2 separate regions of the Homo sapiens genome follow, and region 2 is linked to region 1. Evidence: fine-mapped expression QTL. A gene starts in region 1. The other region holds a variant in brackets. All regions are shown on one strand. Distances are from middle to middle. Region 1 holds the start of NOC3L (NOC3 like DNA replication regulator). Region 2 overlaps NOC3L (NOC3 like DNA replication regulator).

What was found. PIP is the estimated chance that this variant, and not a neighbour inherited with it, causes the effect.
Region 2: its variant is the best candidate, but not a certain one, in a credible set for the expression of NOC3L in follicular helper T cells (Schmiedel 2018, PIP 0.60).

The regions. Positions count from the first base shown.
Region 1 is chr10:94,360,422-94,364,816 of GRCh38, forward strand. It overlaps NOC3L (NOC3 like DNA replication regulator), which reads right to left and starts at 2,518. Exons shown (of 21, transcript NM_022451.11): 1 at 2,409-2,518; 2 at 1,244-1,451. The coding sequence starts at 2,417. RefSeq lists an enhancer at 2,192-2,451 and a silencer at 2,592-2,721.
Region 2 is chr10:94,340,683-94,345,077 of GRCh38, forward strand. It overlaps NOC3L (NOC3 like DNA replication regulator), which reads right to left. Exons shown (of 21, transcript NM_022451.11): 12 at 4,171-4,251; 13 at 3,733-3,833; 14 at 991-1,063. Among named protein-coding and RNA genes, the nearest start is that of NOC3L, 20 kb to the right of the region's middle. The variant TACACAC/T (reference allele first, on the strand shown) is at 1,871.

The DNA of each region.
Region 1 (4,395 bases):
AAACTAAAGGCCATTATGCTAAGTTAAACAAGCTAGGCACAGAAAGACAAATTTCACATGTTCTCACTTATTTGTGGTAGCTAAAAATTAAAACAACTGAACTCATGAAGAGAGTAGAATGATGGTTACCACTGGCTGGGAAAGGCAGTTGGAGGAGATAGGAGTAGGGATGGTTAATGGGTACAAAAATACACTTAGAAAAAGATCTAGTATTTGATAGATAGGATGACTATAGTCAACAATAATTTATTTTATGTTTTAAAATAACTAAAAAAGTATAACTGGATTGTTCGTAACACAAAGATAAATGCTTGAGGTGATGGATACCACATTTACTCTGATGTGATTATTATGCATTGTATGCCTGTATCAAAGTACCTCATGTATCCCATAAATATATACACCTACTATGTACCCACAAAATTAGAAAAAAAAAAAACTTTAGCTGGGTGCTGTGGCTCACCCTTGCAATTCCAGCACTTTTGGAGGCTGAAGCAGGAGGACTGCCTGAGCCCAGGAGGTCAAGGCTGTAGTGGGCTATTTTTGCACACTGCACTCCAGCCTGGGTGACAGAACAAGACCCTGTCTATTTAAAATAATAATAATAATTTTTAAAAAATGGACCTGAGAAGACTGAATAGTTGTCTAATAATCTGATATAGTCAAATAAGAATACCCTAAAAGTACCAGCAAAGTTGTAGAACTAGCCTGACTCAAAATAGTCATATTCCTTACAAGTTTTGAGTACTTAATAATTTTTAGATAGTTTTACAAAATAACCATGACAATTACAACTCAATTTCACCCCAAGTTTCCACATGAAAAGAAAGTCAGAAGTTTAGAAGTGTACCTTGGCAATACTGTGAAGAATGAACCAGAGACAAGCAATGTTCTTACCTTACCTAACTGCTGGTGAATGGCAAAGTGGCAGCACTGGCACACTGCCCAATATTTATGTAACGGAGTACTTTCAGTTTGTTTTCCCAAGTAGTGCATCTTCAGATCTGCCTTCCAGACAAACTAAAAGCAGAAGCTTGAATGAATACTGTATTGAAATGTTTTCTCATACTGACTGTGATAAAGCATATATGCTTTATAGCAGTCCTATAGGACTACTATCCTTACCCACTCTAGGAAGATCTGAGAACAAGAAAAGCGATTACTAGAAAGCAAAGTTATTTCCATGAAGAACACTTCAGAATAAATCAATGGAAACCAGAGCACATGATGTTTTCACAATTACCTGGTCGCTTTTCCTTTGGGTTCTCCAATGGAATGGGTTTCTTAGACACAGCATCTTTCACAGCTTGCCTTAGTTTCCTCTGTTCTTTTCGGTACTTCTTGAGAGTGCTTTGTTGTTTAAACTGCTTATTTTTTAGCTTGTTTTCAAGTTTGACTTTACTAGTTTTTATTAACTTGCGAAAGCTTGGGATCTGTTTTTTATTTCTTCTCTAGAAAATAACAGAAAGAATACTGCATACCCAGAAACTTATTTTTTAAATCAGGTTAAAGAGAACTGATTACAAATTTCATTAGACCAATTCCACAATTTCAATGTCCCACAGCCACAGACTTGCATATAAAAGCTAAAACCAAACGATGGCTTTAATCCTACAGAAGAGCGCTACAGCATCAGTTATTCAATCCCAATTCACAGCAATTCAAAGGGTTCTACGATCCCCAAACAGGTTAAGAACCACTGATCTAGTAGTGGTAAGTGGCTATTCAAGGCTAGTTTAACACACCTGTAGTTTAACACATTCAAAGCAAAATGCTGGCTGTCTTTAATAAAACTTACATTTATCTACGATTTTATTACTTACAAAGTGCTCCAACAAATCACCTCTAACAGCCTAGTTGAGTACTGACTGCTGTTATCCTCACATTACTGATGAAGCTGCCAAAAGACCCATAAACTAAGGAGGGCAAAACTGAATTCGGATCTTTGGATTCCACTTCTCTTGCTGGTGACTCATTCAGAAATCCCAAAGTTAGTCCTGAACCCCAGGACTACCTCTTATTTTCTGGGAGAACCAGGACAAATCACTTGCTTTTCTATCTCTTTACCCTTCATGGGTACCGTGACTCACATTATAAACTCGCTGAGGGTAGGACCCTGCTTCTCATTTGTGAAAAACGAGTTCGAAAGACGGTCTTGAAAAATTCCTTCAAAGTATGAAATCCCACGCATGCAAAACTCCGTGCCTGTCTCTTCGTGATACTCTGAAGTGGTGCGCGCACACAGTGGGTAACCAAGGATGAGCTCGGTGTAAGGAATGGAAAGCCCCCAGTCTAAACCACCGCCCCCTAGACACGGGTGAAAACCTGCCTAAAAGCTAACTCAGGCAGTGACTCTATCACCCGAAGGGGCCCTAGGCCGCGGCGACCGGGCTTTTGAGGACACTTACCGCCTTCATCCTTAGGCCTTAAATGAATGCCGGCCAGACAAGTTCACCAGAAGCAGGGTTACTACAGAAATCCCGGGGAATGACACACGTGCCGAAGTCCCTACACTACCAGAGCCGGAAACGGCCTTCAGTCCCTCCCAATCCTCCGCCGCCGGAAGTGAGGGCGGGACTTCCGTAGACAGGTTCGGGCTCGCGCCCTCTCGCGGTGACTGTCTCGCGGCCCTGGACCGGTTGCCCCCCGGCGTGCGCGCGCGGACTGGCACGAGGGAAGCCCCGAGGGCGTCGGTGCCAAAGGCGGGAAGCCGGGCGGGAGGGGCGCATTTTGCAAGGTTATCTGAGTATGATTCTTTGACTCTCGCCCTATTTATTTCTTTTAAAACCTTGGGGAAATCGGGCTCCTCCTCTCAGAATGAGAGGACTTGGTTTTTTCGGTCACCTCATTGCATTTTGTGCCTCTCCTCACGTTGCTTATCTCATGCTGTTATAGATACTGATTTTCGTAGTCTTTTTCCTCCATACAGTCCTGAGGGCAGAAAGAAGCTTATTTTTTGTGTGTAATGCCTGCCCCTCGACGGACATTCTGGCCGTGTTTGTAGCATGGCGAATGATTTCTCATCAGCCTTGGTCACTTAAAAGTCTGTGATTCTTAGTGTTTTATTTTGCATTTTTTTTTTGCTTTAATTTTTAACCATTAGCTGATAAAGAACTGTATCCATGGCTGGGTGCGGTGGTTCACGCTTGTAATCCCAGCACTTAGGGAGGCAGAGGCGGGTGGATCACCTGAGTTCCAGGAGTTCGAGACCAGCCTGGCCAACATGGTGAAACCCTGTCTCTACTAAAAATACAAAAATCAGCCAGACATGGTGGCGTGCGCCTGTAATCCTAGCTACTCGGGAGGCTGAGGCAGGAGAATCGCTTGAACCCAGGAGGCAGAGGTTGCAGTGAGTCGAGATCACACCACTGCACTCCAGCCTGGGTGACAGAGCAAGACTGTCTAAAAAATAAAAATAAAAATAAAAAACTGTATCTGCATTTCAGTATCTTACAACTTTGGGTAAATTCTGTCTGCTTAGTAATTTCACCAAAGTCGTTTTTTGTTTTTGTTTTTTGAGACGGAGTCTTGCTCTGGCGCCCAGGCTGGAGTGCAGTGGCGCAATCTGGGCTCATTGCAAGCTCTGCCTTCTGGGTTCACGCCATTCTCCTGCCTCAGCCTCCCGAGTAACTGGAACTACAGGCGCCCGCCACCACGCCCAGCTAATTTTTTTTGTATTTTTAGTAGAGACGGGGTTTCACCGTGTTAGCCAGGATGGTCTCGATCTCCTGACCTCGTGATTCGCCCACCTTGGCCTCCCAAAGTGCTGGGATAACAGGCATGAGCCACCGCGCCCCGCCTAAAGTCGTTCATTTTTACAGGAAGTTTTATGGATTGCAAGAATAAGAGTATCAAAGTGCTTGTCTCTCAAAGACTTTTTTTTCTCAATAAATTTAAGCATTCCACTTCAAGTTTTTTGTGGGTTTTTTTGAGTCTATGATTTTTGAGCATGGCCCTGACACAGAGTCTGGCCTCGCAGTCCTGAGCAGGTGGGAAAACCCAGTAGTGCGGCTCAAAGGGTTCTGAGCCCCTTGAATAGTGTTGCTCTTAGAGAGACTGAGGGAAAAAAGTACCAATTTCCTGATCCCACCACAAAGACCAAGAGGTCCATCTGGCACTCTTCTTTCAACCTCCCTTCCAACTTCTTCCTTGCTCTGTCTCCTTCCACACAGTGTCAGAAACAGCAGAGCCTGTCCCGCTGGAGTATTACTTCATCAAACAAGTGGAAAACATCAGCCTGTGCTCTTCCCAAGTGCCTGAATTCCCTCCCAAGCATATCAACATATCTACAGTCACTCCCATCCTTTTAGCCTTCCTTCCAGTCTCTCCAAGGATGAGGCATCCCCATTCCAGTTCAAAACCAACTCCTCCCAGCTTCATCAGATTCTTGTATCA
Region 2 (4,395 bases), 20 kb before region 1:
AAAAACCCATCTCTCAGGGCCGGGCGCGGTGGCTCACGCCTGCAATCCCAGCACTTCAGGAGGCCGAGGCGGGCAGATCACGAGGTCAGGAGATCAAGACCATCCTGGCTAACACGGTGAAACCCTGTCTCTACTAAAAATACAAAAAATTAACCGGGCATGGTGGTGGGCGCCTGTAGTCCCAGCTACTCGGGAGGCTGAGGCAGGAGAATGGTGTGAACCCGGGAGGCGGAGCTTGCAGTGAGCCGAGATCACGCCACTGCACTCCAGCCTGGGTGACAGAGCAAGACTCCCTCTCAAAAAAAAAAAAAAAAAAAATTTCTACAAAAAAATAGAAAAATTAGCCAGGTATGGTGCCCCACATCTGTAGTCCCAGCTACTCAAAAGGCTAAAGTGGGAGGATCACCTGAGCCCTGGAAGGTCAAGGCTGCAGTGAGCTGTGATTGCACCACTGCACTCCGGCCTGGGCAACTGAGTGAGACCCTATCTCAAAAAAGAAAAAAAAGACCTATAAAGGTTATCTTTAAGATAACCTAGTATGAGGCAGATTTACAGGGTGACTATAGTTTACAATAATCTATTATCTATTTCAAAATAGCTAGGAGGGAAGAATTTGAATGGTTGTCACATAAAGACACATATTTAAGGTGACTGATATCCCAAGTAAAATATTTACAAACTATATTATATGAATATATTTAATTATCACATATACCCTGAAACCATGTACATCTATTATGCATCAATTTAAAAAAAAAAAAAAGAAAACAGGTCAGACAACCCTCCTGCTTAAAACTCTCCAATGGTTGAAAACGTTCTACATCTTGACTGTGGTGGTAATCATATGATCATAGGCCTTTGTCAAAATTCATAAACTGTACATCTAAAAGGGGTTTTACTGTATACAAAATATATCTCAATAAACCTGAAAAATTTTTAAAATAGTAATTACCATTTATATCTTTTAAAAAATAATTTATTATTACTTACACCAGACTCAATGAGAGTATGAAGAACTACTAACAGATCATCAAAAAATTCCACATTTATAAGGTGAGCAAACCTGGAATCAAACAAAACAGTTAATCAGTGAACTAAAAGCAGAAATAAAGCTGGTAGAAATTAAGCTTGACTTTAAAACTGTATTTTTAATATTCTTTATTTCGAAATGTTAGCTATGAAAGACATGGCAATTATTGATACTTTTCATTAATTCAGATTGGCCTCTTCAACAATTCATACACCATTGAACACTAAACTCAGTAGAAATATATAAGGCACTGAACAAACCAAAAATATTTCAAAAATCCTTCTGCACTGAGAAAGAAATTACTAGAAGCAAACAACTTCCTGAGGAAAGTTTAGGAGGTATCCGGCAGGATCGGCTTCTAAGAAAACAGGTGGTGGGAAGAGAGACAAGGAAAGATTCTGCTACTTACAAGAATATGGACCTTATGACAGCTTTAAGGATAAAATGGAAAGAATACTGGACCCCAGTATCTAGTTCAGGCTCTGCTCTTAATTACCTGCGTGATCCTAGGTAACTCACTTCACTGTCCTGGGCCTCTATTTGTAGAAATAACTGAGACCACCCAATAGGGTTAAAGAAGAATCATATGAGCTGCTAAATTTGAGAGTTACTCCATATACTATAGTAGACACTGAAGTAGGTTAAAGTCAGGACATCTCTTCAATATTAGCAAGAAGTCTTTGATCTATGTAAATCTTAGAAGAATAAAAGACCTTATGAGTGACATATTCCATGCATATCGGTACAACTTTTTGGAGAAGCAATCTGACAATTATTTATCAAAATTTAAAATGAGCATACCCTTTGATCTGGCACTACATGCACACACATGCATGAAGA[TACACAC/T]ACACACACACACACACACACACACACGTGCGCAAGTATTCCCAGTGCAAATAGGCGACTGACCAAATAAAGTACAATATATCTATAAAATGGAGCACTATAAATTTTTTAAAAATTAAGTGATATATATGTGATAAGGGAGAGGTACCAAAAGTAACTGTTTACAAAACCAAAAAAAAAAAAAAAAGCAAGTTACAGGACACTAAACATAGCATGATTCCATTTGCATGAAAGATGGCAGGCAGGCCCGGTGCGATGGCTCATGCCTGTAATCCCAGCACTTTGGGAGGCCGAGGCGGATGGATCACCTAAGGTCAGGAGTTCGAGACCAGCCTGGCCAACATGAGGAAACCCCATCTTTACTAAAAATACAGAAATTAGCCAGGTGTGATGGCACATGCCTGTAGTCTCAGCTACTCGAGAGGCTGAGGCAGGTGACTGCTTGAACCTGGGATGTGGAGGTTGTAGTCAGCTCAGATTACGTCACTGCAACCCAGCCTGAGCAACAGAGCAAGACAGTGTCTCCAAAAAAAAAAAAAAAGGTGGCAGATGGCACGCAGACAGACTACATACATATATAGGAGGGGGAGCTTGCAATTTTAAATTGTATATTCTTTTGCATTATTTAAATTTTTTAAATGACCATATATTATTTTTTAAACTTTTTTAAATAAAGGAATTAGTTATTAAAAAACAAATAGCTGGGTCGAGCATGGTGGCTCACGCCTGTAATCCTAGCACTTTGTGAGGCCAAGGCTGGAGGATGACTCACTCAGGAGTTCAAGATCAGCCTGGGCAATATGGTGAGAGCTTGTCTCTATTTAAAAACAAAAATAAAAACAGCAAGTCCTACACAATGTAGGAATAATCCCTTCTCTGACCAGCCTCTCTGAAGATTTTTAACCACAAGGACCGTATCACCATATAAGGAAATGCATACCATTGCCAAATAGCTCCAGTTATTAGAAAGTAATTTCTTATGATAAACAGAACTTGCCTTTTCTATATCTTCTAGCCATCAGTCCTATTTCCAACTCTATTCCTAAAGTTGTACTGCCCAACAATGGTAGCCACTAGCCACATGTGGCTGTTAGGCACTTAAAATGTAGCTAGTCCAAATTAAGACACAAGCGTAAAATATAAGTGTTCGAAAATATGTTATGAAAAAACACCAAACAACTCATTAATGTTTAATATTGTGTTAAAATACTTCAGATAAATCAAATCCAGTAAAATATATAAAAATTAATTTCACCTGTTTCTTTTTATCTTTTTAATGTGGCTAATAGAAAATTTTAAATTATATATGTAAGTTCACATTATATTTTTACCGAATAGCAATGTTCTATAGGATACCACCTCAAAAAATTGTGGAACGCTATCATGACAACCACAACCCTTACTCTAGCTCACATCCTGACAAGGCCATTAGTGTTGAGTGAATACACCAAAAGATCTATCTTAGCAGAAACACATTACACAGAACTAGAGAAATGATGTACAGCCGGGTTAAAATAGACTTAAGAGTCATCTGCATGATCCACTCAAACTATGACGATGGGCAATTGACTACACAGTGCAGAAAGAGTCAAGAACTGAGAGATTTAACCTTAGGAACACCTAGAATTTAGTAGGCAGAAAGAAGGAGTTGGTAAAGGAGATTTTAAAAATAAAAGGTTTGAGATGAGAAAATCAAAAAAGCCCACTGTTATGAATAGCTTCAAGTAAAGGCTGGTGACAATCAGAAAAGGAATGAGAACTGAGGATAATGGGCCATCATTAGGGAACTCTCGAAAATTCTTTGGTCTTTCCTATTTAGAAGGAATCTAAAAGATTTCAACCTACACAGCCCTTACTTGGCAAGACCTTCTAGAACTGCTGGCAGGAGAGGTGACCTCTGGGCCTTCTTCAATATTCTGAAGTAGGTTACAAACACAATATTCAGAGTCTCTGTGTGCTGGCAGAGGAGACAGACAAAATGACTTTAGGATAACCTGGTATGCTTTCTCCTGAGTGAGCATAAGTATCACTTCAACAGGTTAACTTTTTTCCCTACCCATCCCTCCCCACAATGCAATCTTTGAAATTTTTAACAAAACAGAATGAAGATATACACCCTGTGACTGCATAAAACTAGCACTGATCACATCACAGTTTCCCGCACATCACAAAAGTCACACATCTAAGCCTCATGAAAGAAACCAAAATTACACAGCTACAAGCTGAAACAATAAATTTCTAGTTTAAACAACTTAACGCATTTTAAAAGCATAACAGAATATGAAACTGCCTACCAGTTTAAGTTTTTTCTCAGTACTCTCTGAAGCTTCTGCCTCTCGAAGCTCTCGCTCTAGTTTCTCTTCTGCTTTCTTCCACTGAAAATAGATTGAAAAACAAAAATCTAAGAGCATATACCACAGAGTGAAAAAAGCAGAGGCAGAATACGTAAATGTCATAAAACACATACAGTAATACCACATGTTGTCTATGAATGCAAATATAAACAAAGTAGAGAAACA